Linked DNA regions of Homo sapiens: region 1 is linked to region 2. Evidence: fine-mapped expression QTL. A gene starts in region 2. The other region holds a variant in brackets. All regions are shown on one strand. Distances are between the middles of the regions. Region 1 holds the start of LOC124904575 (a long non-coding RNA gene). Region 2 holds the start of NLRP3 (NLR family pyrin domain containing 3).

Region 1 (16,232 bases), 34 kb after region 2:
TTGCACTCCATTTTGAGTCATATTGGATGAGTTTTGTTTTGCTGTTTTAGAGATGGGGACTTGCTATGATGCTCAGGCTGAATTTGAATTCCTGGGTTCATCTACAGCCATACCACCCAGAGTGCCTGATCTCATCTGCACTCCTGGGCTCAAGCAATCCTCCCGTCTCAGCCGCCCAAGTAGCTGGGACTATAGGTGGACATCACTGTGCCCAGCTATGAATTAGTTTTGAAACATCTTGGTGGTTCTTTTAATCTTCCTTATTCTTGCTACTCTTTTCCTTTTGCCTGGAAGGTTACCCCCACTTTCCCACTTTCTACTATCCATCTAAGAAGCTCCTACTTATTTTTTAATTACTGTGATCCTCATTTTGTCCATTTAAAAGCAGGGATAAAACTAACATTCCCATCTTGAGGTTGTGATCATTCAATGAGATAACCCTGTTTAAAGTCGTCATCCATGTCAAGCACACAATAAATACTCAAAAAATGTTTGATCTTCTTCTTCAGATTCCTTCCTTCCTTCCTTCCTTCTTCCTCCTCCTCCTTTCTTTCTCTCTTTTTCTTTTTCTCTTTCTTTCTTTCTTTCTCTCTCTCTCTCTTTCTTTCTTTCTCTTTCTCCCTTCCCTTCCCCTCCCCCCCCCCTTTCCCTTTCCCCTTTCCTTTCCTTATTTTCCTTTCTTTTCTTTTCTTTTTTTAAGACAGGGTTTTGCTCTGTGGCTCAGACTGGAGTGCAGTGGTAGGATCATAGCTCACTGTAGCCTTGAACTCTCCTGGGCTCAAGCAATCTTCCTGCCTCAGCCTTCTGACTAGCTAGGACTACAGGTGTGTACTACCATGCCTGGGTAATGTTTAAAATGTTTAAAATTTTTTATGTAGAGACAGGGTCTTGCTATGTTGCCCAGGCTGGTCTCAAACTCCTGGCCTCAAGTGGTCCTCCCACCTTGGCCTCCCAAAGCACTGGGATTCAGTTTTCATTATGAGACAGTTTTGTGACATAGGCAGGTAGTTAATAAATAAAAATCCCCAACCAATTAACTTAATACAGTACATGGCAAGATATCCGTGCTTGGTAAATGTAGAGCTCAGTTAGGTGGATTGGTTGAAATCGAGATGTCAATCACATTCCTCTAATCCAAGGATTGGTTGGTGGGACATGGTTGTTTGATTCTTTAAACATTTTATTATGTGTTCAGTGTAACCGTTGCTTAATAGTTACCAGCATTTTCACAATTTGGATATGACGTTTTCTTAACAAAACTGCACCGTCTGTTGCAATTTCTACTACTACTGTGTAGTGCTCCCCAAACATCTGTTGAATAATCCATTCTACTCCTTTTTGGAAATAGTGGTAAAGCCTGCATAACTTTAATTACATAATTTAAAAAATATTTTCTCTTTTCCTCTTTGAAGACCATCCCCATTCTACTAGAATGTCCCTGGCCTTTGCCAGGAATGCTACTAATCCCTTCTGCATGTTAATTAACAACAACCCTCTGATAGAATTCTTACCGGGGATGAGAGCTTAGTAGAAGCCACTCAAAACTTGCTTTGTTTTTGTCTGTCTCTCTTGGGCTTCATTTGCCTATTAGTCTTACTTACTGTGTCTTTTCAGTTTGACTCTTCCTTAATTGGGAAGATAGAAACCAGTGGATGGATAATCACTTTTTCCTGCTGGTCATCTGTTCATGCTTTACTGTCTGAATACACTTTTTCTGTATTTCTATTTTTCCTGCCTCGTAGACACCAAAGAGCTTAAAAAACATGCCATTGCCAAGGACTCTGGCAGGAAGGAGGCAATCACCTGCGCTATTCCTGGCTTCATGGAATAGAAGCATCTGTGCTCCTAGGAATTACGCCACCAGTGATTTTAGAGCTCTTATGCTCTTCCTGGGTGATAGAATGGGCTTAATTTGACTCAAGAATAGTACATCAAAACTCTTAATTCCATCGAGATTGATGCATTTTTGGGGTTTTATGCTCTAAAAGGCCTTTTGCTGTGCAGAAGGAAGAGAGAGGTGGACAGAAAGGGCAGTGGGGAGAAGATGAGACTAAAAGGTGGAAAGTCCAGGTCTGGATCCCTCCCCACCACACACCTGCTCTGTGGCCTTGAGAGAAACATGTAATTTTTATAAGCCTTAGATTTCTAATATGTAAAATGTATGTAATAGTTTTAGCTGCACTCCTTCCTTGCCAGGTTGATATAATAATCAAATAAGACTGGTCTCTGGGTCAGGCACAGTGGCTCATGCCTGTAATCCCAGCACTTTGGGAGGCCAAGGTGGGTGGATTGTCTGAGCCCAGGAGTTTAAGACTGCAGTGAGCTGTGCACTTGGCCTGGGTGACTGAGCAAGAGCCTGGCTTTTTCTATTTATTTATTTATTTTTGAGACAGAGTCTCACTTTGTTGCCCAGGTTGAAGTGCAGTGGCAATCTCGGCTCACTGCAACCTCTGCCTCCCAGGTTCAAGCAATTCTCCTGCCTCAGCCTCCCAAGTAGCTGGGATTACAGGTGCCCACCACCACCCTAACTAATTTTTATATTTTTAGTAGAGATGGGCTTTCACCATGTTGGCCAGGCTGGTTTTGAACTCCTGACCTCGTGATCCACCCTCCCAAAGTGCTGGACCTCCCAAAGTGCTGGGATTACAGGCATAAGCCACTGCACCTGGCCTTATTTATTTATTTATTTAGGCAGGGTCTCACTCTGTCACCCAGGCTAGAGTGTGGCAGCGCAATCATGGCTCACTGCAGCCTCGACTTCCTGGACTCAAGCGATCCTCCCACCTCTCCAACGTGGTTGAGGGCTGCAGCGAGAAAGATGTGAAAGGGGCATTTGGGGGCGCAGGAAGGCGGGAGGTGGCAATTGCTAAGGGCCCCGCCGTGTTCCTGTCACAGCCCTAGCTACAGCTTAGAAGGTCACAATGGACGTTCACCTGTTGTCTTTGATGTTTAAATCAGCACCGACTTCCCATGAGGAGGATTTTTTTTTCCTGTCTCTCTTAAAAAAAAAAAAAAAGGCCCCTGCAGTGTGGGTGTCTGCAGTGTTACGGGGATTATTAGTTGAGGATAACCACTGGGATGTGTTTCTGGAAGAAGTGGTGCTGAGGAGCACTCCTGGCCGGAGGAAAGCTGTGTGAGGAGGAGGAGGAGTATGGGGTAACTGGCTCAGTTTGCCTTGGCTCTTTCTGTCGGACTCATACAGCAAAGCATCTGCTGAGACATCATTTGTGTCTCCTGTGACAGCCAGAGACAGCAGGTCTTGCTCTCCCCAGATCATATCTGAGATGCTGGCTCCTGCTCTCTGAGCTGAAGGCTGCAGCTGCTGAGAGAGGACGAGGCACTGAGTCAAAGCAGCTGCACAATGTTGGGGAACAGCTGGGTACTGAGGACTCTTCTCCCTGTCCTTCTACAGGTTGGTGAATTCTGGCCTTACGTCAGTCTGTTGTTCAGCTTTGTCCTCGGTACTCAGCACTAATCAGAATCTCACGCACCTTTACCTGCGAGGCAACACTCTCGGAGACAAGGGGATCAAACTACTCTGTGAGGGACTCTTGCACCCCGACTGCAAGCTTCAGGTGTTGGAGTAAGTCCTTTGGTTTATTACAGCAATGAGAACACATGGTGGCCAAGGGTGGAGGGACGTTTAGGCAGAGTGGCCACAAGATAATCTGTATCTTAGAAGTGAGGTGTCTTCTTAGTGTTTGCCTTGTTACAGGATCATGGGACTGGGAGGAGTCCTTCCAGATGATATAGATGTAGGAACTTGAGTCCTTACCATCACAGTTTTCTGTACCACAAAACAAGGAGGGCAGTATGACACTTACATTTTATGGAAATGTAGGGAAAGGCACAGAATTTGGTAAATCAATGAACAAACCACTGTTACTAATTTGATCTGTGCAATGCAGTGGATTTGAAAAAGAGAGAGAAGAATAATTACCAGCATACAAGGCTGCTTGAAGCTAGTTAGTCCTGTGCTCCTGTGCTTTTTTTTTTTCCACCTGAAACAAGACAGGCTAAGATGCTAAAATCTTGGGGAGCTAGGGGGATGGTTAAGGGGACATTTTCTTTAAATCACCCCCTTTTTGCAGATTAGACAACTGCAACCTCACGTCACACTGCTGCTGGGATCTTTCCACACTTCTGACCTCCAGCCAGAGCCTGCGAAAGCTGAGCCTGGGCAACAATGACCTGGGCGACCTGGGGGTCATGATGTTCTGTGAAGTGCTGAAACAGCAGAGCTGCCTCCTGCAGAACCTGGGGTGAGTGTGCTCTGCAGAGATGCCCGTGGTGGGACTCTGAGTTCTCAGGAAACGTTGACTGTTATCAAAATCCAGGATGGCTCTCGCTTCATTTGCAGCCACTCAAGATTAGGTTGGGCCTGGGTCAGTTGTGGTGGATATTTTAAAATAGAGAATATGGGGTTAAACTACACATTCCACTTCACTGAGATGGTTAGAATCACCAAGGCTAAGCTGGATTTCACCCACATTCCCCAAAGAAACACAAGCCCTCATGCGATCATGGCCAAGGAGGATTCTGTTCTACACAAGGAACCGAACTTCGTAGAACTCGTCTATGGGTCATCCAAATTGGAAGGGTCTTTACATAGTGGGGATCTTGTTGTTTTGTTTCTGAGGATTTATTTTTTTTTTCCTTGAGACAGAGTCTTGCTCTGTCGCCCAGGCTGGAGTGCAGTGGCATGATCTCGGCTCACTGCAAGCTCCGCCTCCCGGGTTCACGCCATTCTCCTGCCTCGGCCTCCCAAGTAGCTGGGACCACAGGCGCCTGCCACCACACCCGGCTAATTTTTTGTATTTTTAGTAGAGTTGGGGTTTCACTGTGTTAGCCAGGATGGTCTCCATCTCCTGACCTCGTGATCTGCCTGCCTCGGCCTCCCCAAGTGCTGGGATTACAGGTGTGAGCCTCCGTGCCTGGCGGTTTCTGAGGATTTCTAAATGGGAAAAGAGTGCTCCAGGAATAGCAAGATGGGAAATTACACGAAATTCGACAGTGTGTCAGGATATTGCCAGCCCACCTCTGTGATACTACTGAGGTAGTCGTCTCCTCTCTAGCAAGAGCTTCCTGGCGAGTCCCACGGTTCTGTCAGCCGTGATGATTGCACTTTTCCCTGAAGACGTTTTCACTGCTTGGCTTTAAGGCCAACATGCTCTCCTGGGTTTTCTCCTATTTCATCAGATCCTTCTACTCAGTCTCCTTTCTGGCCTCTTCTTCATCATCCTGACCCTTATGTGTTGAATCCTCAGAGCTTAGTCGCTGGGCTAATTTTTCTTCCCTACACTTTCTCCCTCATTTAAATTATCTGGTCTTCTGGCTTCATGATATGTGTGCTGTGGCCTCCAGATTATATGTCCATAAATTCTGTGTCTCCGTGCTTGGCTGATCTTTCTTCTTGAAGGTTTAATAAACCTCTCAAACGTCACATCTAGATCCACACCCTTGCTACTCTCTTCTACCCGAAACCTGATTCTTCCCCATTTCAGTCGATGGTCACTTCCTCCAAGTTGCTCGGGCCAAAACATTTCTGGTTCTGTCGTCACTGTCTCTTTTTCCTTATAATCATGTCCAATGTGTCAGCACATCCTGTGAGCTCTGCCTTCCCAGCTTGGCCACTCCCTGACCACTTCAGGCCAGCTTCACGGCTTCTTCCTTGGCTCAAGCCACCATCACCTGGTGTCTGGATTGTCATGGTGGCATTCTGACAGGTCACCCTGCATCTGTTATTCTGATTTTAGCAGACAAGGGATTCAGCTAAAACGTAACTCGCATCATATCACTCTTGTCAACATCGTCTTCTTATCACTTTCATAATCAGAGCAACAAACTCATGGTGGCTTCCATGCCCCACATAATCCAGCCTCTCCTGCTTCCGAAGATTCCGCTTCTCCCAACCCTTGCTTATTCTGCCCCAGTACAGTGATCTCCTTGCTGTTTTGCAAGAACACTGTCATCTCTGGATTTTTGCACTTGCTTTTCTTCTGGCCTAGAACTCTCTCCCCTTCAGTATCCACCTGCATTATTCCCTGTACCTTCCTAAATTCTCTGCTTAAAGGTCTTCTCTGCGAGGCTGTCTTTGACTATTCTACTGAAAATAGAAGCACTTTTTCTTCTCTTCTCATTCTCCTCTGCAGTGTAGCACATCTTATGTGCTATGTCATTTTCTTGTTTATTTATTATCTATCTCTGCTCCCAAAATATAAATTCCATTAGTCCAGGGACTTCTGTCCATATTAATGATCTCAAGGCTGAGAACTTGTTGGAATGCAGGTTTGAATAAATACAAGTTTGAATCAGCCTTGCATCCTTGTGCCAACATAATGGAGCACATTTGCTGCAGGACAAGCCAATATTCCCAGAGCTAAGAGAGATGGGGGAACAAACAAAGGATTGGTCAGGTCAAAGCTGGGGACACTGCTACATGTAGCATCACTGACCTAGCCCTGAGGGACATTCTGGACCCAGGCTGAGGGACAGGCTCAAAATAGATTGAAGAATCCATGAATGCAATCAACCCGTTTTCTCAGGCTGCGATAACAAGCTGCTTTAGACTGTGTGACTCAAACACAGATTTATTATCTCACAATACTGGAGGCTAGAAAGTCCAAAATCAAGTCTCTGATGAATTTGGTTGCTGGCGAGAGTCCTCTTCCTGATTTGCAGATGGCTACCTTCTTGTTATGTGATTGCATGGAGGGAGGGGAGGCAAGGGAGAGAAGACAGGGGAGAAAGAACAAACTCTCTGATATCTCTCCTGTAAGGGCACTCACCCCATACTGAGGGCCCCACCCTCACAACTTCATCTAACTCTAACTACTTCCCAAGGGCCTCACCTTTAAGTACCGTACATTAGGGGTTCGGGCTTCATCATGGGAATTGTTAAGGAAGACAAACATTCAGTATATAACACCACCAAATTGAGATGGTTATAAATGGTGCAGGACAAATGGGTGGATTTATTAGTTAAGTTGCAAGGGAAACTTTATTAAAGAGGAGGAAGAACTTACATCGAAGATGTGAGAGGCATCCTGGGCAAATGCAATGTGTAGAATTGATCAGGTTAGTGACTAAATGAACATAAGGTAAAAAAATTTACAAGACAGTTGAGGAAGCGTAAATGCTGACTGGACATACAGTGATACTAAGAAATTATTGTTAAACGATTTTGGTGTGATAGTGACATTGTAATTATATTTTAGTGTCACAAAGTGAATTATTGATAGATGCATTAAATGCAGTATTTAAAATAATCCATGGGTGGGAGGAGTGGGTGGGCAATAGAAGAAACAAGTTGACATGACCTGTTTAATTGTCGAACTTGGGTAATGGACACAGGGGGTTCATTATACTATTTTCTATACTTTTATGTATGCTTAACATTTTCCCAACTAGATAGTTAAAAATATAACAGGAACCACATTGGGCACTTAGAGCTTTTTTTTTTTTTTCCCCACATTTTTATTGGGAGCCGTGGGAGGGGCCTCCTCTGTCATTGGAGGTGCTCACAGTTTCTTCAGCCACTCCAGGCTGGGGTCCTGGGGGTCTGAGGCTCCCAGTGACGAAGGACACGACGAGCACCGGCTCCTTGGCCCAGGCATTCTTGAAGAAGGTGCGGAGTCTCGCGGCCATCTTGGTCTCGGCGGCGGCGACGGCGGCGAGGACGCGGAGCACTCTGGGAGTTGTGGTCCCTCTTTTTTTTTTTTTTTTTTTTTTACATTTTAGAAGTGTGTGGAGTTTAGGGAAATGAAGAGATGAGACTTTTAAGGTTAACGACTCTGACAGAGTTATCTGAAGAGTGCAACCCAGGCTTTCTATTTGCTTTTACAGGTTGTCTGAAATGTATTTCAATTATGAGACAAAAAGTGCGTTAGAAACACTTCAAGAAGAAAAGCCTGAGCTGACCGTCGTCTTTGAGCCTTCTTGGTAGGAGTGGAAACGGGGCTGCCAGACGCCAGTGTTCTCCGGTCCCTCCAGCTGGGGGCCCTCAGGTGGAGAGAGCTGCGATCCATCCAGGCCAAGACCACAGCTCTGTGATCCTTCCGGTGGAGTGTCGGAGAAGAGAGCTTGCCGACGATGCCTTCCTGTGCAGAGCTTGGGCATCTCCTTTACGCCAGGGTGAGGAAGACACCAGGACAATGACAGCATCGGGTGTTGTTGTCATCACAGCGCCTCAGTTAGAGGATGTTCCTCTTGGTGACCTCATGTAATTAGCTCATTCAATAAAGCACTTTCTTTATTTTTCTCTTCTCTGTCTAACTTTCTTTTTCCTATCTTTTTTCTTCTTTGTTCTGTTTACTTTTGCTCATATCATCATTCCCGCTA[T/A]CTTTCTATTAACTGACCATAACACAGAACTAGTTGACTATATATTATGTTGAAATTTTATGGCAGCTATTTATTTATTTAAATTTTTTGTAACAGTTTTGTTTTCTAATAAGAAAAATCCATGCTTTTTGTAGCTGGTTGAAAATTCAGGAATATGTAAAACTTTTTGGTATTTAATTAAATTGATTCCTTTTCTTAATTTTAAAAAAGAGTACCTAGAAATTTTTCAAATTATTTCTCTAAACCACTAAAGATAAATTAAATTGTTTGGTGCATTTTAAAAGTCACTTTGGCAAATGATTCCATTGTAGATAATTTTTAAAACGTTACCTCACTCTAACTGTAATGAGTGGAATTTCATCTTTGATAGGATAGGAGATTGAAAATCGTGGAGGGAAAGGTTTGAGAGTATCAGAGCCTGCGCTCCTAACTAGAAGTATTATGTAGAAGATGCATCTTGCTTTCAGTTGATAACAGCTTATTTTGGATTTATCCCATCCGAGGAACAGTTCATCTATTATACTTCACAGAGCATTAAGTTATAAGGAAATATTTACTAATTGCTTCTCTACACATGGACAACTCTTAAACCGCATGGAATTGCTCAGGATGGAAATACTATTTCCTCTGTACAATTAGCCATCAAAGTAGCCACACTTTGCTACTCAAAGTGTAGTCTATGAACTGTCGATATAAGGAGCTTGTATAAGAATGTAAAACAATCACATTATTAAACATACCTTTTAGATGAGCTGACATTTAAAAAAAACCCTGAAGACTATTTTTATAAGGGAAACAGTATGAGATTTACATTCTGTTGCAAACTCTGTCTTGTTAGCACTTCTGAGCAGCACCAACTGGAGACTGGGTTTCTGCATCTTGGTGAACTATTACCGACTGCCTTCCTGCTACAAACACTTTGATAACCTATATAAATAATGTAATCAGAAACACATAGCTGAGCTTGAAAGAGAGAAAGAGAACCTTTGGGCATTAGGACATTAAAACTGGCCAGGTTGCTGAGAATGCCATTATTTCATTCCTTTTTATGGCTGAATAGTATTTTTCCATGGTATATATCTCACATTTTCTTTTTCTTTTTTTTTTGAGATGGAGTCTTGCTCTGTCGCCCAGTCTGGAGTGCAGAGGCGCGATCTCGGCTCACTGCAACCTCCGCCTCCCGGGTTCAAGCAATTCTCTGCCTCAGCCTCCTGAGTAGCTGGGATTACAGGCGTGTGCCACCATGCCCAGCTAATTTTTGTATTTTTAGTAGAGATGGGGTTTCACCATCTTGGCCAGGCTGGTCTTGAACTCCTGACCTTGTGATTCACCCGCCTCGGCCTCCCAAAGTGCTGGGATTACAGGCATGAGCCACTGCGCCCAGATGGTTCCATATTTTTCCAATTGCAAATTGTGCTGCTATAAACACGCATGAGCAAGTATCTTTTTCGTATAATGACTTATTTTCCTCTGGGTAGATGCCCCGTAGTGGGATTGCTGGATCAAATGGTAGATCTACTTTTTGTTCTTTAAGGATCCACAATGTTTTCCATCGTGGTTGTACTAGTGTTTGTACTAGTTTACATTTCATGGAAAAACTTTCTATAGAAGAAAATGTGAACTACAGAGAAAAAAAAATCAAAATCACAGGAAGAAGATAGCAATCTACTTCATTCCTGGAATTGTCTGAAAAAGTCGTGTAAAATTTGTGGAGATTTAAGTATATGGAGAAAAACACTTATTCATTGTAAGTAAAATAAGATTGTATTTCAGCTTCATCTTGTGTATACTTAGGAGTAATAGAAAAGAGACAAATGGGGAGAGAATAAAAGAAATATAGGAAGAGGAAAAGAGAAAAGAATCAGGAAATTGGAAGTGAAATAATTCCACACATACTTATTGAAGTCTATTTAAACAATGCTTAAAAATATATGGCCTCTTAGAATTATACGTTTAAAATGAACTTTGTCGCTATGGGATTTGGGGCATTATAACAGGAAGTGAGATGTTTGAAGACAGGGTTTTTGAGCTCTCTGGGTATTAACTCCTTAAGTGAAAGATGCTCTGAGTGCACAATAGACTTGTGCTGTGTTCTTTAATTGATGGAGATGCTACATCTCATGTCCTCATCATCCACAGAGCCTCCAGATCCTGGCCAGAAGTCTCCTCAGAGCCCCCTTCATATCTTTATTTCTCAGGGTGTAGGTGAAGGGATTGAGAGTGGGGGTGATTATGGAATAGAAGAGAGAAATAAATTTGCCCTGCTCTTGGGAGTAGCTGGAAGGGGGCTGCAGATACATGTAAATCGCAGGTAGGTAGAAGAGGGAGACGATCATCAGGTGGGAGGAACACGTCCCAAAGGCCTTGTGTCGTCCCTTGGAGGACTGGATCCTGAGCACTGCCCGGGCAATAAAGCCATAGGAGAGAAGGATGAGAGCCAGGGGCACCAACACGAAGAAGGCCACCAGCACAGCCAGTATGGTGTCATTCACAGCGGTGTCAGCACACGACAGCTTGATCACGGCCGGCACCTCACAGAAAAAGTTGTTCAGCACCTGCCGCCCGCAGAATGGCAATTGCACCGTCAGGACCACCTGCACGAAGGAGTTGCCGAAGCCACTGAGCCAGGCCAGAGCCACGAGCTGCTGACAGAGAGCACGGTGCATGAGAACGGCATAGTGCAGGGGCTTGCAGATGGCCACGTAGCGGTCCAGGGCCATGGCGGCCAGGACGATGCACTCCGTGCATCCCAGCCAGTGGAAGACTGCATATTGCACAGTGCAGCCTCCATAGCTGATGGTCTTCTGGGAACTGCCCATGTTGACCAGCATCTGAGGGACTGTCGTGGTGGTGTAGCAGAGGTCCAGGAAGGACAGGTGACTGAGGAAGATGTACATGGGGCTGTGGAGTTGAGGATCCACCCGGGATGCCAGGATGATGGCGACGTTCCCCAACATGGCCAGCACATAGGACAGCAGGAGGACCACAAAGAGAGGGAGTTCCAGCCACGGCCTGTCAGACACACCCAGAAGGATGAAGGCTTTAGGGGAGTCCCCTAAGAAGCTATGGTTGTCACTTTTCATGTTGCGGCATTTTCTGGCACTTGTGGCAAATTGAGAAAATTGGAATGAATAATACCTGAGAAGAGGAATTGATCACTTTCCTCCCTCTTGCATCCACTCTTCCTTTCCCAGGTGATAGCCTGTTTGATTCTCCTTACCTCTGTGGAGACGCTGGGATGCGGAAGGGTCAGAACCAGGAGCCCCAGTAGCAGCCTCTGTGTCTTTGCTCTCCTTCCTACTCAGTGGCCGCAACTAAACCATTTAATATTCCTGAACTTCTGCATCTGTAAAATGGGGAGAAATACCTCCTTCAATTGCCAAGACTTGGGGACGATAGAGACATTAAGTATGTGAGAAGAATACCTCACGAATGACAATTATGTTCCAGGTAGAGCGAAGCGTGCTGCAGCTCCCATCACCGTCAGAGTGTTTGATTTCTCTCTACATCCACATCGACAAGGAATTGTCCACCTTCTTAGGCTTTCCCATTTTGGGAGGTAGTGGTAGGAGGGAGGCAGGCGGTGACATAAAGCAAGCAGAAGGGCTTTGTGAGCAGCTGGGGGCTGTATTGATAGGACCACCCCCCGTCACTGGCTCACGCTTGCATCCAGCTCCCGGATTCATGCTGATCTCCGCTGTCATGACCACACACGCACAGGCAGCCCTGTCACTCACACTGGCAGTAAAAGCAGCACAATTCTAGGTCCTGTGAGTCTCTGGAGTGGAAGAGCCAAGGTATACGTTACTTCAGCCCCTGAATAGGTCATGGTAGTTAATGAGACCCCAGACCATGGAATTTTGAGCACAGGGAGAAAGCTCTTGATTGGCGTGAGAAAGGTAGCCCCTGGAATTGTCTACGGAAAGATCAGACTGCCCTCTAGGGCTAGGTTTTATCTGATGGCTTGAGTGACATTCCAATTTCCTGCACAATTTCTTTGCCGAGCAGCTGTCACCTCTCAGTGATAGAAAACAGCCAATTTGATTTCTGAAACCATTGCTGTTAGGAAGCAACTGGGTTGCCACCTGCTGATTCGTGGGTCCTTTCGACTGCACCATTGGCTTCTCACCTCCTACAATCGCTCAAGCATTGCACACCTTCCAGTTCCTGATGGGGATGTTATGCTCCATGATAGGATTGAAAAATATTATTAATAAACAATAATTAATTAATCATTATTCATAATAAATCCTGTAAGCAGATAATTTATGAAGGATTTTTATTCTTGATTTGGTACCTTATGCATAGACTGTAAAACTAACGGAGATCTGCTCAGCTTACATGTTGCAACAGGTGTTCCCTGCTGCCCCAGTTGATGTTCTGAAGAACTCTACTGTTACTGGAAAACAACTCAAACTCCAGGGTTTCAATGGAGGAATAAGTTCAGTTTTTCCCTCCTGCTTCTCTAGTTTCAAAACCACACACGTTTTGTCAGAAAGTTGCCAATATTCTTGTGAAACATTCAATTATCGTATCTCCTCCCAGATTCTATCAACAATACTTATGAAATAAACTTCACAGAATGTGATCTTATCTCTAACGAGCTCAAGATGCCTGTCAAAACAGTGAGCTGTGGCCGAGCAAAGTCAAGCTAGCACATTTTTAAGTCTAATTATTAAGAAGTAAAGGAATTATGACATTTCTCTTTCTGAGATTTCTGATTCCAGAGTTTCTTTTCAGAGCCTAAACTGGGAGAAAAGGGAGAAGTTGTAGGGATAGTGAAGAAAGAAATGAGAGAATGAAGGAAGCAAGAAAGATAGAGGGGTAAATGTATGCGGCAATTTATAATAAAGACAAGTTATTTACCACTCACTGTGAGCCAGGTACTGTAATAATAACTTGATGTTGCCTTAATATCTCAGCAAGGTCCATGTTTTCACCCCTAATTGACTGAGCGACTCGGGAGGACAGCTGGTCTACCTTAGTTACACGGCAGCAAATGGTAAAGCCAGGACTGAAAGCCAAACTCCTGCTCTTCACTACTATTCTCTCCAGAACTTTGCTTTAAAAAAAGAGCAGCTGGTGACATGGGGAGCAGCAAGGGCAGTCGCGTAAACGACTGAGACAAAAGAAGTTCCTGGGAAGGGGAGATGAGGGAGAGGAAGGTCACAGGATAGAAAGGGGCAGGGATTAGAGAGGAGTGGTTTTCTTGTAATTATAGTCCACTGTACATGTGCACACTTACGTACACACGTGCACACACATGCATGCACGTGCACACGCACACACACACACACACACACACACGCACACACACACGGTTTCTCAATGGCAAAGCTGGACACTGCCCAGCCCTGCCCCTCATGCCCTGGATCTGATGCCCTTCTGTTCAGGTGTTTCCACACGGAGCTTTCGTAGGTGTCTAGCCTCTGCACTCCTTGACCTTCTTTCATCTTCCCACTACCCAAGTACAGGTGCCCCCTCAAGGCACAGCCTTGCTTCCCTGGATGGACACAGTAGTTCCCACAAACATCGCCATCGCATTCAGACGGAATCCCTCAGGCTGTATCTACAGTTGTCAGTTCCTCACTGACCTCTAACCCCCTTTTTGACATTGTGAACTGAGGCATCCCAAATTTCACCTGGCAGCCATCCCCCCAGACTCAAACCATCTCCTTCATCTTAATTCTGGCTGAGTTCCCTTCAGTCACCGTGATGCCAAGTACTGAGGTTCTTTCTATTCATGTTCTACTCCTCATTCACTCTAGTTCAGCACCGAAGTTAAAGAATTCAACACCCACACAATGCTGTGATCCCACCACAATGTTGCATCGTTGCAGGCACGCACTGTCTGTATCCTCACCACTGCCGTCCTGGGCAGAAACGCCCACCAGGACCCCTCTTGGAACTTGCTACCTGCCTCTCTGCAGGCAGTTTCAACCCCTCACTCACCCTCACACGAAGTCATCTTTCTGAGACTCAGGCCTTAAGGCAAAGATATCTTTAGGTGTTTCAATTACCAAAAACGTAAGAACCCGTCGCTCAAGAGTTACCTGCTGATTGTATCATGTTCACGCTGAATTCCCGCAGTTTCTTCTGGGGGCTGCTGGCAGGCTAGGCTGTGAACACGCAGGCTGTGATACACCCTTAGATATATATCATTCCCTGTAGGATATATAATCCTTATGATTAATATTTATATCTCTATATCTATATCATCTACCTCTTATCCCTGACATTTGCTGCTGAAATCTCTGCTGAAGCTTGACGGAACACATTGTTACCTACTCCATCACACAAGATGGAAAATCAAATTTACAGCAGTGTGTGGAATTCCTAGAAAGTAGCTTATGAGATGGGCAAACAGAAACATGGTCATAGGATTTTATTGCTTATTAGTCCAAAGGGTCTCTTTCTTCAGTCTAGAATGCAGCCTCCCATCCCACAACCGGGATAGCCTGGTCCAGGCCCTGTTCAGCTGCGGAGGCCATCATTGGGATTACACTCAAGAGAGTCTTGGGGACAAGGCTTAATGATAGCAGTATTTTCCTGAACTGATAATAACACGGACTCTTTCATCACAAAAAGAGAAAGAGCCCCTTTCTCCTTATTTAAGAGCCCCTTTCTCCTTATTTGTTTGCATTTGCAGTCCTGGTTCAATGGCACGCTTTTTCTTAGGAGTCTAACAAGTACAATCGAGACGTTAGCTGGCACAGGGGCTTGAGAGCACACAAGCCCAGCCTCAACTCCACCTCTTCATCTTTATTCTCAGTGTCACTCAGCAGCCTCTGCAATGTAGTTAGTGTCCCTGTGCATGCACAGTCCTTTCTCATCCTGTGCCAGGACTGGGGAAGTGCACATCCTCCTGCTGGGAATAGCAGGAATGTCTTGGGAATCTTACGTTCTTCCCTTCCCTTCATGTCCCACCTCTGGTTTCAGGACAGCCCGGTTTCTTTCCTTTAACTGCCCTCACTAATTTAACACTATTCATCATCTTCTGTAGCTCCCACAGTACAAAGGGGTTTGAGGACATGAATATGCCTATTGCCACAGTGGATCTGAGGTCTAATTTTTCATAACACTTTAATTTGAAAGATTAAACAAATTCTTAGCATTGAGAGGAGAAGGGAAGTAAGTGCACACTGAATGAGCACCCACCAGTTCTCTGTGCACTAGGCACCGCATATGAGCCTTCCCATATCCCATTTCAATAACTCTGGAAAACTGAGAGGTTCAGAAAGATTAAGAAGTTCACCTCGTTCAGGGACTGGGGTATGAGTCCACAGGGTAAGCTATTTAAAAATCCAATGCCGGTTCACATGGAGGGGAAATTACTTCCTCATAAGCCTCTGGATGTCATAATCTGTCACTCTCAAAAGTAACAAACAGTTCCCCTTTAAAAAACTTTATTTTATATTTACTTAAAATAAATAGAGATGGGGTCTTGCTATTGCCCAGACTAGTCTCGAACTCCTAGGCTCAAGTGATCCTCCCACCTTGGCCTCCCAAAGTGCTAGGATTACAGGCGTGAGCCACCTCACCCAGCCCAGTTTCCCTTTTACATGCACGACCTCGTTAAACACCCTGTAAACCTGAAAAATATTAAAGACCTCGCCTAATGGAAAAATTGTAAATTTGCTGTATCATTTGGTAATCATTTCCAATATGTTAATTTTTTACTTTTTAGGGAGATTGTAATTACTTTTTTTTCTTTTTTTTTTTTAATTATAGTTTAAGTTCTGGGATACATGTGCAGAACGTGGAGGTTTGTTACACAGGTATACACGTGCCATGGTTGTTTGCTGCATCCATCAACCCGTCATCTACGTTAGGTATTTCTCATAATGCTCTCCCTCCCCTAGCCCCCACTCCCTGATGGGCCCCGGTGTGTG
Region 2 (16,232 bases):
AGCACCACGTCACATCATGAGAGCACCATGTCACGTCATGAGAGCGCTGCGTCACGTCATGAGAGCGCCATGTCACATCATGAGAGCGCCACGTCACATCATGAGAGCGCCACGTCACATCATGAGAGCGCCATGTCACGTCATGAGAGCACCATGTCACATCATGAGAGCACCACGCTACATCATGAGAGCACCACGTCACATCATGAGAGTGCCACGTCACATCAAGTACTTATGGTTTACAGGGGTTAGGCTATGGGCATCTTTGGGAGCCGTTATTGTGCCTGCTTTGTGGTATACCGTCATCACTCAGTGTTCTCCATTATCTTTCTGTCTGCCATATGCCTTTCCTCTTTTTGTTTTCTTCTCTGACATTATCTTTAATATTTTCCGTGATGGTTCTTTTAAAAAAATTGGTCACTGTTCTTGAAATAATGGAATTTTTCCTGGAGTAGCGCTGTTTTGGAGAGTAGTTGGGAGAAGGCCTAGCAAATATCCCCAAGGAGTCTGTGGATATCATTCAGGGGAGATCTGTGAGTTTGGATGGGAAGAATGTTCTCTTCTTTATTTTCTCTAATGAATGTGAGTGACACAGCCCATTAGTATCAGTAGGTCCTATACATTTTTCACATTAGAAATTAGATACCTTCATATTGTTACAGTTTTGCTGAAACGTCAGTTGCTGTCACCACTACTTTCAAATTATGCCAGTTATTAGGCCCGCTGCTAGATATGATTAATTGGTGCATAAATATTACAAACTTTAAAAATGTTTTACCATTCTCTTTGTCATCTCTGTGTTTTATTTCATGCACTCGAAGTCCTTGTTCTGATAAAGGATGTATCCGCGTCACCAGTCATCAGAGTGACAGCGAGGTTCGGGCACTGGAACAGTGCCAGGCCGAGGCCTGGGGACGTGCTGGCAGGGCAGGCAGCGTGAGTCCTGCCTCCTGCTTTCATCCTGTGCTCTCTGCTCCTCTTTGTGGGGTGTGGTCCTCTCCAGACTAACAGGAAGTCTCCTTGACTCACACCAAAACCTACATGTCACAGATTTGGGGTGATTTCACTTGCACTTCTCAGTGACTGGTGTCAGCATGGCTGAGGCTGGTCTTGACCTGCAGTTTCTCCCACACTGGGAACAGACAACCATTTGCTCTGGCAGATGCTCGTCCGTGTTTCCTCCCCACTTCCTGCTGTTGCTCACAGTGTCCAAAGAGGTTTTGGGGTTTGCCCGTGGACTTGACCTTGTGGTTCCAAAGAGAGCGGGGCTCAGGGTTGATGACTCCACTAGTTTGTGCTTCAGCCCTGGGAAAACCTTGATTCTCTTTGCCACCCCCAAGGTCTACAGAGGGTCTCCCTCATCCTGGCCCTCCTCTTCCCAGTCCCAGGTGCCAAGCACCTGGGGGTCAGTCCCCCACTGAGTGGTGTCTTCATAGAAGTGGAGATTCCTTTTCTGTTTCTCTTTCTTGTTGTTCGTAGTTGATTTTAGAAATGACACGGGGGCTAGAGCTTTCCCCCTGCCCTCTTTATCAGGAACTCTTTTTAGCTTTTTCTGTAACTTTTTAACAAATTGCTGATGTTATTTGCAAAAAACAGATGATACAGAATTGTGTGAAGCAGAAACTTCTTCTCCCAACTCAGTCACCTCTTTTCAGGGTGACCTCGGAGGCAAAAGTGGTATGTATTTTCCATTCTTTTCTCTATGCTTATAAATATATTTCAAGAATTCAGTCCATTTATTATTTATATTGGTATATCTGGTAAAGCGAAATACAGTTTCTTACTTTTAATAATCATATTGTTGCACAACCAATCTCCAGAATGCTTTCATCTTGCAAAAGTGAAACTCTGTACTCATGAAGCACTCATTCCCCATTCCTCTCTCCCCAATCCCCCCACCCTCTGTTTTTTTTTGTCCCTGGTTCTATTTTTTGTTTCTGTGAATTTGGTTACTGTAGAAACTTCCTATACATAGAATCGTACAGTGTGTGTCCCTTGGTGACTGGCCTGTCGCACTCAGCAAATGTCCTCAGGGTTTGTCCATGTTGCAGTGTGTGTCAGAATTTCCTTTCTCTTTAGACTATTCCGTGGTGTGTGTATAGCCCTTGTTGTTTTTCCATTCATCTGTTGCGGGAGACTGGGGTTGTCTCTACCTTTTGGCTCTTGGGCATAGCCACCTGTTATGGACAAGGAGCACTAAAATCACCGTTTTTGTTTTTTTTTTTTTTTCCTGCAGATAACTGACTGCTCTCAAATGTCCCTTATCTCTGATGAAGGAACTTGATTGTTTATTTTTTGATTATTTATTTGTTTAAAGGCAAGGTTGAAAGTCAGGTGCTGTGAATTCCAATTCCTCGAGTTTCCGGTGGGCGATATAAATGAGAGGTGTGGACGGAAAGTAGGAGGTAGTAGGGAGTGGTGAGGACTGTGGAAAACCTGAGTCCATGCTCAGTGGGGGCAGCCTGCACAAGCTCCTGGTGCCACGTTTGTTGAAGGGATGGTGGTTGACTTAGTTCTAGAATTCTAAGTTTTAAACAGAAACCTGAAATCTGACTAGTTTATGTAAAAGCCCTGATTTTACATCTTGGCAACAAACTTAGAAATGTAAGTATACTGTGAGACTGAGATTTTGTGTCTATACCTCACAATAAAGATGAATCAACTAAAAATGTATTCAAAAGAAGACAATATTTTTTAAAAGCACCGAAAATTGTGAAAAAGAAAAAAATGTAGGTGGGATTGAATTTATTCCCTCATATATGAAACTGTTTATATTTCAGCAATGAAATAAAATATAAGTGACTCAGTCACTGGTTTTTAGTCAAGCCATGTATGCCTCACAAAAATCATACTATTGGCTGGGCGTGGTGGCTCGCGCCTGTAATCCCAGCACTTTGGGAGGCCGAGGTGCGTGGATCACCTGAGGTCAGGAGTTGGAGACCAGCCTGACCAATATGGTGAAACCCCATCTCTACTAAAAATACAAAAATTAGCCGGGCGTGGTGGTGGGTGCCTGTAGTCCCAGCTACTCGGGAGGCTGAGGCAGGAGAATTGCTTGAATGCGGGAGGCAGAAATTACAGTGAGCCGAGATTGCGCCACTGCACTCCAGCATGGGCAATAGAGTGGACTCCGTCTCAAGTAAACAAACAAACAAATGAACAAAAAACAAAATCATACTATCTATTACTTTTGTAATGAAGAATACTTACCTGTTTTCCTTCTCTTTGTGAGTTTGCAATAAAGTCCTCTCGATTTGCTTTAACTTGGCATGTGTCTTTCAGAGATATTGGAGAGCACTGGGAGGCATTCCTTAAAGGTAGATGAGGCAAAGAACCAAGACAAGGGGCTCTGGCTCTAACACTCTTGGTGGGTTCTAGAGATCAGATTATGAACACAGGAAAAGGAGAAGATAAATGGGATGAAGAAGCCAATTCCAACATATTACATAGCATGCTTATATGAAGGACTTGGCTTTCGTAAAGTAAGAACTGACAGCTTTTTTCTTGATGGCCATCCACTTTTTAGTCTGTGTCTCAGAAAGTGTAGAGGTCGAGGAATCGGGGGCCCCTGGGACTCTTGGGTCATAGACACATTAGGAAAACCCACCTCAGCTGGGGAAGCTGACTCAGCGCCAGCACTCCAGGCCCCAGAGGAGCAGTCACCCCTGGAAAGAGGGAAGAGCAGCAGCAGCAACGGAAGGTCACGTCTCCTCACAAGAACTCACAAAGTCTCGCTAATGTTATGACTGTACTTTCTGAAACCCAATTTGTCTTTGTTCATACCTTTTCCCTTCCTGCTAGTCACATTTTTTCTGGTGAGAGAAAGTGAAATTGCCATTTTTAATATCAGCCAGTCACTTTCAGTTTGAAATGCAGTCTGTTTCTTGGTAACCTCAGATACTTTGGCACTCCCCACCTCCGATCTCTTCTGTTCTCTCTAGTAGGGGAGGATGTCTGGCTTCTGGGCTGATCTCTGCCTTTGCTGAGCACCCCTGAGATCATCCCACTTGGGCTTGTGTCTTAGTCCGTTTGTACTAACAAAACACCTGAGACTGGGTAATTTCTAAGGAGCAGAAATTTATTTCTTAGAGCTCTGGAGGCCGTGAGGTCCAGGATCAAGGCGCTGGCCTTGGTGCCCGGTGAGAAGTGCTCTCTGCTTCCAAGATGGTGCCTTGTTGCCATGTCCTCACATGGCCCATGGCAGATAGGCAAGAGAGAGCACCCCCTTGAACCCGGAGCCCTTTTACAAGTGTGTGAATCCCATTCATCACCCCACAAACTCAATCACCCCACAAACACCACACCCCTGAATACTATTGTATTGGGGGATTAAGTTCTTTTTAAATTTTTATTTATTTGCGTATTTTTATTTATTTATTTATTTGGAGACAGGATTTGGCTCTGTCACCCAGGCTGAAGTGCAGTGACACAATCTCAGTTCACTGCAAGCCTTGACTTCCTGGGTTCAGAAGATCCTCCCACCTCAGCCTCCCCAGTAGCTGGGGACCACAGGTGATTTCAACTTGAAATCATTCATGCAATTTTAGTTTGGAATTCAGTGCTGTGAGTTCCAGTCCACTTAAGTGAGCTTTGGGTATTTAATGGAAGCAATTATTTTTCTTAAATGTACAAGAGTAAATTATTATTATTTTTTTTTGCATGAATGATGTATGGAAAATCACCGCGTTTTACTTTTGTGAGTTGACTTATTTATTTGTGTTGATTTTGATATTCCCAAATCTGAAACAAAATTTTTTCAGAATGCATAATAACACACAGAGTATGGTGGTCTTTCATTGACAAGTTTTTATGTATGATTAGAGTATCTTTTCAAGATTCATAATCTGCATTTTTTTAATATAGGGTCTCACTCTGTCACCCAGGCTGGAGTGCAGTGGCACAGTCCTAGCTCACTGCAGCCTCAATTTCCTGGGCTCAAGCGATCCTCCCACCTCAGCGTCCTGAGTAGCTGGTACTACAGGCATGCACCACCACATCCGTCTATTTTTTAATTTTTTGTGGAGATGGGGTCTCACTATGTTGCCCAGGCTGCTCTTGGCCTCCTGGCTTCAAGTGATCCTCCTGCCTCAAACCTCCCAAAGCGTTGGGATTACAGGTGTGAGCCACTGAAACTGGCCTGACCTACAATTTGAATACTACTGTACAGTTTACATTTTGCTGTCAGGTATTATTTTATTTATTTTTTCCTCTCTACAATAATGTATTATAGATCAGGTCTTGTTTTATTTGAGCCTCACAGGAAAGCTGAGGTGAGGGTCGCAGGCAAGGAGTCGGACCACAGGAGTGGTCGCAGCATTCAGCGGAGAGTGAAGCAGCGAAGGCTGGAAACCTCATCTGCTTCTCGTGAACTTCCCACTGCCCCAAGTGACTGATGTCCTTACACAATTGCAGCCAGTTCGCCAGCTGCATGAGTGACAGTGGCATAATTGACGATTGCCAAAAACGGAAACAGCCCAACTGTCCTTTGCCTAGGGAATAGAAAACCAAATTGTGGCCTATCCAACCCATGAAATACTTAACTGCAGTAAAAAGGAATAAGCTACTGATCTGAATCTCACAGGCATCATATGAAGTGAGCGGACTCGCTCACCAAAGGCTGCACACTGTTTATGTGATGCTCTGGAAAAGGTAATGCTTTAGCAGGTGGAAGAAGTGGGGCTGCGGGTGGGGACAGAGGCTGACTATGTGGCAGCACAGTGGGTGGGGACAGAGGCTGCACAGGGAGCATGTGCAGCTGATGCAGGTGCTCTGTGTGGGCTGTGGTGGTGGGTAGCTATATGCTTGTGAGCACTCACAGGCCTGTGCATGAAAAAGGTGCGAATATTTATTTTATTGTACATATTTCAGGTGTATAACATGGCAGTTTGATATACATAGTGAAATGATTGCTGCAGTCAAGCAAATTAACATGAGTTAACATAGCCACCATCTCACATAATAATCTTTCTTGTGGGTGGTAAAAACATCTAAAATCTCTCTTAGCAAATTTCAGGTTTATAATATTTTTAACTATCGTTCCCACACTGTTTGTTAGATCTCTCGGCTTATTTATCCTACATAACCGAAATTTCGTACCCTTTGACCGTCATTTTATTTCCTCTACCCCGGTAACTCTCTGTTTCTATATATTCAACTATTTTTTTTTGAGACAGGATCTCGGTCTGTCACTCAGGCTGGAGTGCAGTGGTGTGATCTCGGCTCACTGCAGCCTCGACCTCCCAGACTCAAGCAATCCTCCCACCTCAGCCTCCCAGCCTCTCAAGTAGCTGGGGTGACATGTGCACACCACTGCACCTGGCTTCCTTCCCTCCCTCCCTCCTTTCTTTTCTTTTTTTCATTTTTTTGGTAGAGGTGAAGCCTCACTATCTTGCCCAGGCTGGTCTCAAGCTCTTGGGCTCAAGTGATCCACTCACCTCAGCCTCCCAAAGTGCTGGGATTACAGGTGTGAGGCACCACTCCTGGCCTAACTTTTTTTTTTTTTTTTTTTAAGGTTCCACATATGAGTGAGATCATGTAGTGTTTGTCTTTCTGTGCCTGGCTTATTATGCTTTGTGTAAAGTCCACCGGGTTCATCTATGTTGTGGCAAATAGCAGAGTCTCAATTTTTAATACTAACTAAGATTGTATTGTGTATATATGCCCCAAACTCTTTATTTATTCATCTGTCAATAGACACTTGGGTTGTTTGCCTATCTGGACCATGGTGAATAATGCTGCTATGAACATGAGTGCACAGATGTCTTTGTGAGGTGGTGATTTTATTTCCTTTGGATACACACTCAGAAGAAGGATTGCTGGGTCATACGGTAGTTCTATTTTTAATTTCTTTAGGAACCTCCATATTGTTTTCTGCAATGGCTGCACCAATCTGCATTCCCAGCAGCAATGTGCAAGGGTTCCCTGTTCTTCACGCCCTAGCCAATGTTTGTCTCTTGTCATTTTGCTAATAGCCATCCTAACAGGTTTGAGGTGGTACCTCATTGTGGGTTTGGTTTGCATTTCCCTGATGATTAGTGATGTTGAGCACTTTTTTGTATACATGTTGACCATTTTTGTTTCTTTTTTAGAGAAATGTCTATTCAGTTCCTTTCTTCATTTTAAAAATCAGATTATTTGTTTTATGCTTTGAGTTGTGTGAATTCCTTACATATTTTGCATATTAACTACTTATCTGATATATGGCTTAAAACTATTTTCTTCCAATTTGTTGGCTACCTTTTCACTCTGTTGATTGTTTCTTTTGCTATACAGGAGCTTTTTACTTTGATGTATTCCCACTTATTTATCTTTACTTTTGTTCCTTTGCTTTTGTTGAGACATTAAAAATATCCATGCCAAGGCTAATATCAAGAAGTTTTCTCCTCTGTTTTCTATTTTTTATATTTAGTTTTTTATCTGTTTAGAGATTGGGTCTCATTCTGTTACCCAGGCTGGAATGCAGTAGTGTCATTATAGCTCACTGTAACCTCAAATTCCTGGGCTCAAGTGATCTTCTTGCCTCGGCCTCCTGAGTAGCTGGGCTACAGGTGCACAGCACCATGCCTGGCTAATTTTTTTTTTTTTAATTTTGTAGACACAAAGTCTCACTATGTTGCCCAGGCTGACTGTGAACTTCTGGCCTCAGGTGATCCTCCTGCCTCAGCCTCCCAGAGTGCTGGGATTACAGGCATGAGCCACCATGCCTGGCTTCTTCTCTATTTTCTTCTAGGAGTTTTACAGTTTTAGATCTTATGTTTAGATCTTTAATCCATTTTGAGTTGGTTTTTGTGTGTGCCAAGTTTTATTCTTTTGCGTGTGGAAATCCAGTTTCACCAAAAGCTTAATTTTTCAAAATCTTATATTTTTCTTGATTTTTTTTTCACACTTCTATAGCCAACATCTTTATTGAAGAGATTGTCCTTTCTCCATTGTGTCTTCTTGGTGACCTTGTCAAAGAATTAGTTGACTGCATATACTTGAGTTTATTTCTGTTCCACTGGTCTATGGGTCTGTTTTTATAAAGGCATGGATTTTTACTGCATATGAATTATACCTAAATTTGTCTTTTTTTTTTCCTTTTTCTGGAGAATGGGGTCTCACTATATTGCCCAGGCAGGTCTCGAACTCCTGGGCTCAAGCTATCCTCCCGCCTCTTGCCTCCCTGAGAGCTGGGATTACAGGCGTGAGCCACTGCGCCCGGCTGAATTATACCTAAATTAACTTGACTAAACAAACAAAAACAAAAAGATCCCAGGTTCAGCCAATGAGCTCCTTTTTTTTTTTTTGAAATGGAGTCTTGCTCTTGTCACCCAGGCTGGAGTGCAGTGGCACAATCTCAGCTCACTGCAGCCTCCACCTCCCAGGTTCAAGTGATTCTCTTGCCTCAGCTTCCTGAGTAGCTGGGATTACAGGTGCCCGCCACCACACCCAGCTATTTTTTTTTATATTTTTAGTAGAGATGGGGTTTCGTCATGTTGGCCAGGCTGGTCTCAAACTCCTGACCTTGTGATCTGCCTGCCTTGGCCTCTCAAAGTGCTGGGATTACAGGCATGAGCCACTGCACCCAGGCTGAGCTCCTTTCTTTTGGAGCATATTTGGTCTGCTTTCTCTCTAGCTTCAGCACCTGAAGTTTTTGCTGCTCCTGCCTCAGCTCCAGCCCCGAATGACACCTTTCACCTGGTTCATGGAGACTCAGGTCTGCTGTCATGCCCCTAAGCAGGACTAGATGCCTCTCTCATGTTGTAGAGCATTCTCTCTGCAGTTCTGTAGAAAGGTGGTAGTCATCGGAACCAACTGCTTATTCTAGCTTCTCTGTGCCAGGCTCTGTTTTAAAGGCCTCACGTTTAGCCATTCACTCAGTGTTTTCTGACAGCCTTCTAGGATAGGTACCGTTATTTGGGTTGATGTAGTGCTTGGTCAAATGCAGTATAATGAAGGGATCAAGGAGGGGGCAATTCCAAGCAAAACCACTTGTTCATCCATCCTGAGTCTAGGAGATTTGGAAGATCTAAAGAAGTAGCAGGCAATTATTGTCACCCTTTTACAGGTATGAGGCACAGACAGACCCAGTCATTTGCTGACATCCCTCCACTGAACTGGGTGCTCGTCCTTTTCACTCACCCAGAGGCTGAGCGAGTGCCTCTCACCCACCAAGCTCTGTTGAACTTGTGCCTTTGCCGGTCTGTGGTCCTGCGGCCGTCTCATGAGCTGCAGAGTAGGTCTGTGTGTGTCTCTCCTCAAGCTACTCAAGCTGAGGCTTTGTGTGCATGCCTGCCACATACCAGCCATTCCGTGAGTGTTAGTGGAACAGGTGAGTCAATGAGTCAGGGAGTAAAATTTGTGCTTTAAAAGTAGAACATGTCGGAGAGAACCTGTACTGCCTTCCAGCCATCTTGCTGTGAGAGGACAGGGCATGGACTCTGGAGTTTGAAGGCTGGGTCAGGTCATGCTCTGGATTCTTTACTCACTCGCATGGCATGTCCTTAGTTTCACTTCCCTCACTCTCAGTGGAGCCGTTGCAGCGGGCAGTGTCAGAGGCAACATCCATTTAGCACTGCCGATTTGACCCCCAGCCCCATCTCATACTGGCCTCCCACCCTGCTTCTGTGGGGTGCCTCAGAGGAGAGCAAGGTGAACCCCAGTATGGAACCGAGACACGGTTTTGACAACACTGTTGATCCCATTTGGAAAATCCAGCTATGTGATTAACCATTAGTCTCTCTGCCTCTGCTCTGATGTAAGTGGAGACCACATCCTTCCTGCCCCTTCTGGGGCTGCGACTGCTATAAATTCATTGCATTTCCTCTCTAGCTGTTCCTGAGGCTGGCATCTGGGTAAGTCCAGCTCCGCGGGGCAGTGTGGGCGACAGGACCGGGAGAGCAGTGGGGGAGATTGTGTTCAGAGGGCAGAACTTGTCCTGGTTAATGCACTAGGAATTTCTTCTGGCGTCTCCAAGGTTGTGCTTCAACAACATTTCTGGAATGTTCTTTTATCATTATTTGGGCTCTACGTGTGCAAGTTCGTGTGTGTGTATGTGGCGGGGGGAAGCGGGGAGGACAGCGGCAGCAACCATAGTTTACACCCACGACTTCAGCAGATTTGCCCAGTATCCCTCCCAGGGGAGAAGATGGATGGGATATACAGAAGGAAACAAACCTCCTTAAAGACCAAAGGGCAGCAGATTTTTGTGCTGGTGTTAGGGTGGAAGGAGCACAGAAGAAAGGCAGAATCCTGATGCAGATGGAAGGACTGATGGGGCAGGAGCTGGGAGGGTATGCGGAGCTAATAGGGCTGTCTGGAGAGCAGTCACCTCAGGATGGGCAGGAGCTGGGAGGGTATGCGGAGCTAATAGGGCTGTCTGGAGAGCAGTCACCTCAGGATGCACAGGGCTGGGTTTGCAGGGCTCAGGAGGCGAGGAGTAGATAGGCAGGAATGGAGATGGGACGGGAGAGATGAGTGAGTCTGAGGCATCTTGACATTGAACTGCAGTCACAGAAATTCCAATTTGGAGAGCTCCACCGTTTTCCAGGCTCTCTGCCTCCCTTGAGTGTTATTTATGGCTTTAGGTTGAGGTGCTTTGCCAAATAGAGTATAATCAAGGGATCAAGGAGGGAACAATTCCAAACAAAGCCAACTTGTTCATCCATCCGGACTCTAGGAGATATGGAAGATCTAAAGATACAGCAGGTGATTGCTAGTTTTTGTGGAACTCACAGTCTAGTTGGGAAGACTATGTTGGTGAATGCTGCAGTGATACACCTGTGATAAATGCTGGGGAAGTGTGTCTTTTAGTCATCTATTTTGTTGTCTTTGTCTTTGTCTGACTGAAACAAGTGATGGAAGACATGGTCTCATATCTCTGGTCAAAATCCTGGCTCTGTTCCTTCCTGGTTCTAAACCCCTCGGCAGGCTTCCTAGTCCCCCTAAGACTCAGTTTATGCATCTATAAAATGGGGCTAGGAATAGGTGCACCTCATAGAGCTCTGTGCAGGTTAGATGGGGAAAAACATCAGTGAGTGCCTAGCCTGTGGAAAGCTCTAAATTAATGTGAATTATAATGATAACAATTGCGAATTTTGCAAGGAGACATTAAAGGATGTATGTTTTTATTTATTTTATTTTATTCTATTTTATTTTTTGAGATGGAGTTTTGCTCTTATTGCCCAGGCTGGAGTGCAGTGGTGTGATCTTGGCTCATCGCAACCTCCGCCTCCTGGGTTCAAGCGATTCTCCTGCCTCAGCCTCCCGAGTAGCTGGGATTACAGGTGCCTGGTACCATGCCCGGTTAATTTTTGTATTTTTAGTAGAGACGGGATTTCTCCCTGTTGTTTGGTGAGCCTGGTCTCCAACTCCTGACCTCAGGTGATCCGCCCACCTCGGCCTCCCAAAGTGCTGGGATTACAGGGATGTATGTTTTTATTATTCTCCATTATGCACTCCCAGCTTCATCTCACTTCAATCCACTGGTTGATAGAAGTGCAGTCAAAGACTGTCCCCTCCTCTGCAAGCTTTTATGTTCTCTCTCCTCTCTCCCTAGCCACGTCCTGTTCTGTTATCAACACACTTACTCACCTCCTGGCCTTCTCCTTCTATTGTCTCTCATCCCTCTTCCCTCACAAAAACAGAAGCAAAGAGCCAGAGCCTTCAGTTTGGAGGAACTGAAAACATTCTCTTCTGCTTTCTCATTTTGTAGATGAGGAAACTGAAGTTGAGGAATAGTGAAGAGTTTGTCCAATGTCATAGCCCCGTAATCAACGGGACAAAAATTTTCTTGCTGATGGGTCAAGATGGCATCGTGAAGTGGTTGTTCACCGTAAACTGTAATACAATCCTGTTTATGGATTTGTTTGCATATTTTTCCCTCCATAGGGAAACCTTTCTTCCATGGCTCAGGACACACTCCTGGATCGAGCCAACAGGAGAACTTTCTGGTAAGCATTTGGCTAACTTTTTTTTTTTTGAGATGGAGTCTTGCTGTGTCGCCTAGGCTGGAGTGCAGTGGCGTGATCTTGGCTCACTGCAGCCTCCACTTCCCGGGTTCAATCAATTCTCCTACCTCAACTTCCTGAGTAGCTGGGATTACAGGCGCCCGCCACCACACCCGGCTCATTTTTGTACTTTTAGTAGAGACACAGTTTTGCCATGTTGGCCAGGCTGGTCTTGAATTCCTCAGCTCAGGTGATCTGCCTGCCTTGGCCTCTCAAAGTGCTGGGATTACAGGCGTGAGCCACTGTGCCCGGCCTTGGCTAACTTTTCAAAATTAAAGATTTTGACTTGTTACAGTCATGTGACATTTTTTTCTTTCTGTTTGCTGAGTTTTTGATAATTTATATCTCTCAAAGTGGAGACTTTAAAAAAGACTCATCCGTGTGCCGTGTTCACTGCCTGGTATCTTAGTGTGGACCGAAGCCTAAGGACCCTGAAAACAGCTGCAGATGAAGATGGCAAGCACCCGCTGCAAGCTGGCCAGGTACCTGGAGGACCTGGAGGATGTGGACTTGAAGAAATTTAAGATGCACTTAGAGGACTATCCTCCCCAGAAGGGCTGCATCCCCCTCCCGAGGGGTCAGACAGAGAAGGCAGACCATGTGGATCTAGCCACGCTAATGATCGACTTCAATGGGGAGGAGAAGGCGTGGGCCATGGCCGTGTGGATCTTCGCTGCGATCAACAGGAGAGACCTTTATGAGAAAGCAAAAAGAGATGAGCCGAAGTGGGGTGAGTGGAAGGAAGACTTTTAAAAAAAATTGTGGCCAAGTGCACATAGTGTACAATTTTCCATCTTTATATATATATATATATATATTTTTTTTTGAGACGGAGTTGCTCTTGTTGCCCAGGCTGGAGTGCAATGGTGAGATCTTGGCTCACTGCAACCTCCACCTCCCGGGTTCAAGCGATTTTCCTGCCTCAGCCTCCCAAGTAGCTGGGATTACAGGCATTGCACCTCCACGCCCGGCTAATTTTGTATTTTTAGTAGAGATGGGGTTTCTCCATGTTGGTCAGGTTGGTCTCAAACTCCCGACCTCAGGTGATCCACCCGCCTCGGCCTCGCAAAGTGCTGGAATTACAGGTGTGAGCCACCGCGCCCGGCCGTAATAATTTTTAAATGTACAGTTCAGTAGTGTTAGGTACACTCACATTGTGCAACCAGTCTCCAGAACTGTTTTCATCTTGCAAAACTGAAACTCCTCACCCATTGAATGATAACTCCTCATTGCCTCATTCTCCCAGCCCTGGTAACCACCATTCTATTTGCCATCTCTGTGAATCTTACTACTCTGGGTACCTCATATAAGTGGAAACATACAGCATTTTTTCCTTTATGAGTAGTTTATTTCACTCAGCATAATGTCCTCCGGGTTCAACTATGTTGTAGCATGTGTCGGAATTCCCTTCCTTTAAAAAAGACTGTATAAATACTCCATGGTACCATATACCAAATTTTGTTTAGTTATCTGTTGATGAACACCTGGATTACTTCTACCTTTTTGTTATTGTTAATGCTGTTATGAGTGTTGGTGCACAAATATCTCTTCAAGACCCTGCTTTGAATTCTCTGGGGTATATACTCAGAAGTGAAATTTCTGAATCATACGGTAATTCTGTTAAATATTTTGAAGAACTGCTCTACTGTTTTAGATACCATCTGCACCATTTCCCACCAACAGCACACAAGGGTTCCAATTTCTCCATATCCTAAGAACACGTTATTTTTATTTATTTTTTCTTTTTTATAGTAGCCATTCTAATGAGTGTGAGGTGGTATCTCACTGTAGTTTTGATTTCCGTTTCCCTAATGATAAGTGATGCTGAGCACATTTTCACTGCTTGTTGGCCATTTATAGAGCTTCTTCAGAGAAAGTTCTGTTCAAGTTCTTTTCTCATTTTCAGACCAGGTTTGGCTTTTGTTGTTGCCTTGTAGGAGTTCTTTATGTATTCTAGATATTAACCCCATATCAGATATATGATTTACAAATATTTTCTCCTATTCTGTGGGTTGTCTTTTCATTTGGTTAACTGTGTCCTTTGATGCACAGAAGTTAGTATGATTTTTTTTTTTTTAAATCATGGCCGGGCATGGTGGCTCATGCCTGTAATTCCAGCACTTTGTGAGGCTGAGGTGGGTGGATCACCTGAGGTCAGGAGTTCAACACCAGCCTGGCCAACATGGCAAAACCCCATCTCTACTAAAAATACAAAAAAAATTAGCCGGGTGTGGTGGTGGGCACCTGTAATCCCAGCTACTCAGGAGGCTGAGGTAGGAGAATTGCTTGAACATGGGGAGTGGAGGTTGCAGTGAGCTGAGATTGCACCACGGCACTCCAGCCTGGGCTAAAGAGCAAGACCCTGTTTCAAAAAAAAATTTTTTTTTCTTGTATTGTCTTGGTTTTTTCTCTTTTCCCCTCTCACGGTAGTGCTATGAGAAGGTGGAGGCAAACTGTTTGCTTTCTCTAACTCCTTTAAAAAGCTGATGCAGACTGTACCTACCCCCTGGGCACCTGCCATGATTAGTCCCTCTTTATCTGAATCTCAGCAGTGCCTAGACCTGCCTCCAATTCTCCATCCAGCTTCTCAGACCACATGTTTTGTCCAGTATCTGCTGTGTGGTCAGCAGGCTTGGGCCTCTGCTTCCTATGGCCCAGAGGGCAGCCTCTCTCCTTGAAGAACCGTGGAGTTTGGGGCAGAAGCCTTTCCTTTCACCACCACTTTGGGAATTGGAATGTAAAAGAAATTCTCTTAATCCCCATGTACACATTGGGGATAAGGTTCTTTCTTTTGTCTTGTGTTCTAGGCAAAGGTAGGGCTCAGAGAAGGGCAGGGTATTGCAGGATGATGATGTAGAGCTGGTGGTGATGGGAAGGAGGAGTACAAATGAGTCAGTGGATAGGGAGACACATGTTAAGGCAGGGCAGCAGTGTGGGTGTAATGACACTGGGGAAACAGACAGCAGTGTGCAGCCGGGGGAGGTCAGAAACCAGTTGCTGCAATGGCTCTCACCTGTAGTCCCAGCTACTCAGGAGGCTAAGGCAGGAGGATCGCTTGAGCCCAGGAGCTCAAAACCAGCCTGAGCAACATAGGGAGACCTCATCTCTAAGTAAATAAAGCAATTATCATTGTGTCAGTACTTATATACTCACATACCCAAATGAAAGTGTCATAATCACAACTGTAGAAGTACTTTGCTAAGCAGTTTTTATGGATTTTATGGCACATTCAAGAAACCCATGAAACAGCTTCTGGTATTATCCCTCCTGCAAGTGAATGAGGTGAGCCTGGAAGAGATCCTAACTGGCCCATGGTTTATTTCTAGCCATAACCAGAGCTGGGGTAAAAAGCAGGGCATGTCTCTGATCAAAGCCTGGCTCTTAACCACTACACCGTCTTTGCTTCCATATCTGGATTTTGAGGCAGAAAAGTTATAACTAGGGTTAGAAGTTTGTTTGTTTGTTTCCTGGGGTGGGGTTAGGTTTTAGGTAATAGACTTTGGCTAATTTACTGTCATGGCTCCTACCTGAGTCCCAGTTACTCAGGTGGCTGAAGTGGGTGCATCACTTGAGCTCAGGAGTTCCAGGCTGGAGTGAGCTATGACCATGCCACTGCCCTCCAGCTTTGGAAACAAAGCAAGACTCTGTCTCTTAAAAAAAAAGAATAAGATTTTGGTTTTGGCTTAGATTTTTTGGATTTTATTTTGTGATATGGTTACCAAGTAGACAGCTGTCAGAGGTCTTTTATGGGCTGGGCGCAGTGGCTTATGCCTGTAATCCCAGCACTTCAGGAGGCCAAGATGGGAGGATTGCTTGAGCCCAGGAGTTTGAGACCAGCCTGGGCAACATAGTGAGAACCTGTCTCTACAAAAAATGCAAACATTAGTTAGGTGTGGTGGCACGTGTCAATAGTCCCAGCTGTTCTGGAGGCTGAGGTGGGAGGATCACTTGAGCCCAGGAGGTTGAGGCTGCAGGGAGCCATGATTGTGTCATTGCACTCCAGCCTGGGCAATAGAGTGAGGCCCTGTCTCAAAAAAAAAAAAAAAATCATTTATGTTACTTGTAGATTCCTGCCCACCTGAAGTTATCTGTCTTATATATTTCCCCTAGTGACTAACTCTTGTTTTACCTAACCTGAATTTCTCCTATAGAATGCCTTCTTAAGATATGCTATCTAGTGACTGTTTGGATTTGTGATTCTCAACACAGATGCATGTTGGAATCACCTGGGAGCTTTTAGTATGT

Evidence for each region. PIP is the estimated chance that this variant, and not a neighbour inherited with it, causes the effect.
Region 1: its variant is fine-mapped to the expression of NLRP3 in whole blood (INTERVAL, PIP 0.97).

The regions. Positions count from the first base shown.
Region 1 is chr1:247,440,560-247,456,791 of GRCh38, forward strand. It overlaps NLRP3 (NLR family pyrin domain containing 3), which reads left to right. Exons shown (of 10, transcript NM_001243133.2): 8 at 3,413-3,583; 9 at 4,092-4,262; 10 at 7,846-8,258. The coding sequence ends at 7,945. OR2B11 (olfactory receptor family 2 subfamily B member 11) reads right to left here. Exons shown (of 2, transcript NM_001004492.2): 2 at 8,623-14,505. The coding sequence starts at 11,423. The coding sequence ends at 10,470. It overlaps LOC124904575 (a long non-coding RNA gene), which reads right to left and starts at 7,668. Exons shown (of 2, transcript XR_007067005.1): 1 at 7,525-7,668. RefSeq lists an enhancer at 1-57. The variant T/A (reference allele first, on the strand shown) is at 8,341.
Region 2 is chr1:247,406,361-247,422,592 of GRCh38, forward strand. NLRP3 (NLR family pyrin domain containing 3) reads left to right here and starts at 9,813. Exons shown (of 10, transcript NM_001243133.2): 1 at 9,813-9,833; 2 at 11,693-12,717. The coding sequence starts at 12,441. RefSeq lists enhancers at 3,997-4,046, 4,157-4,216.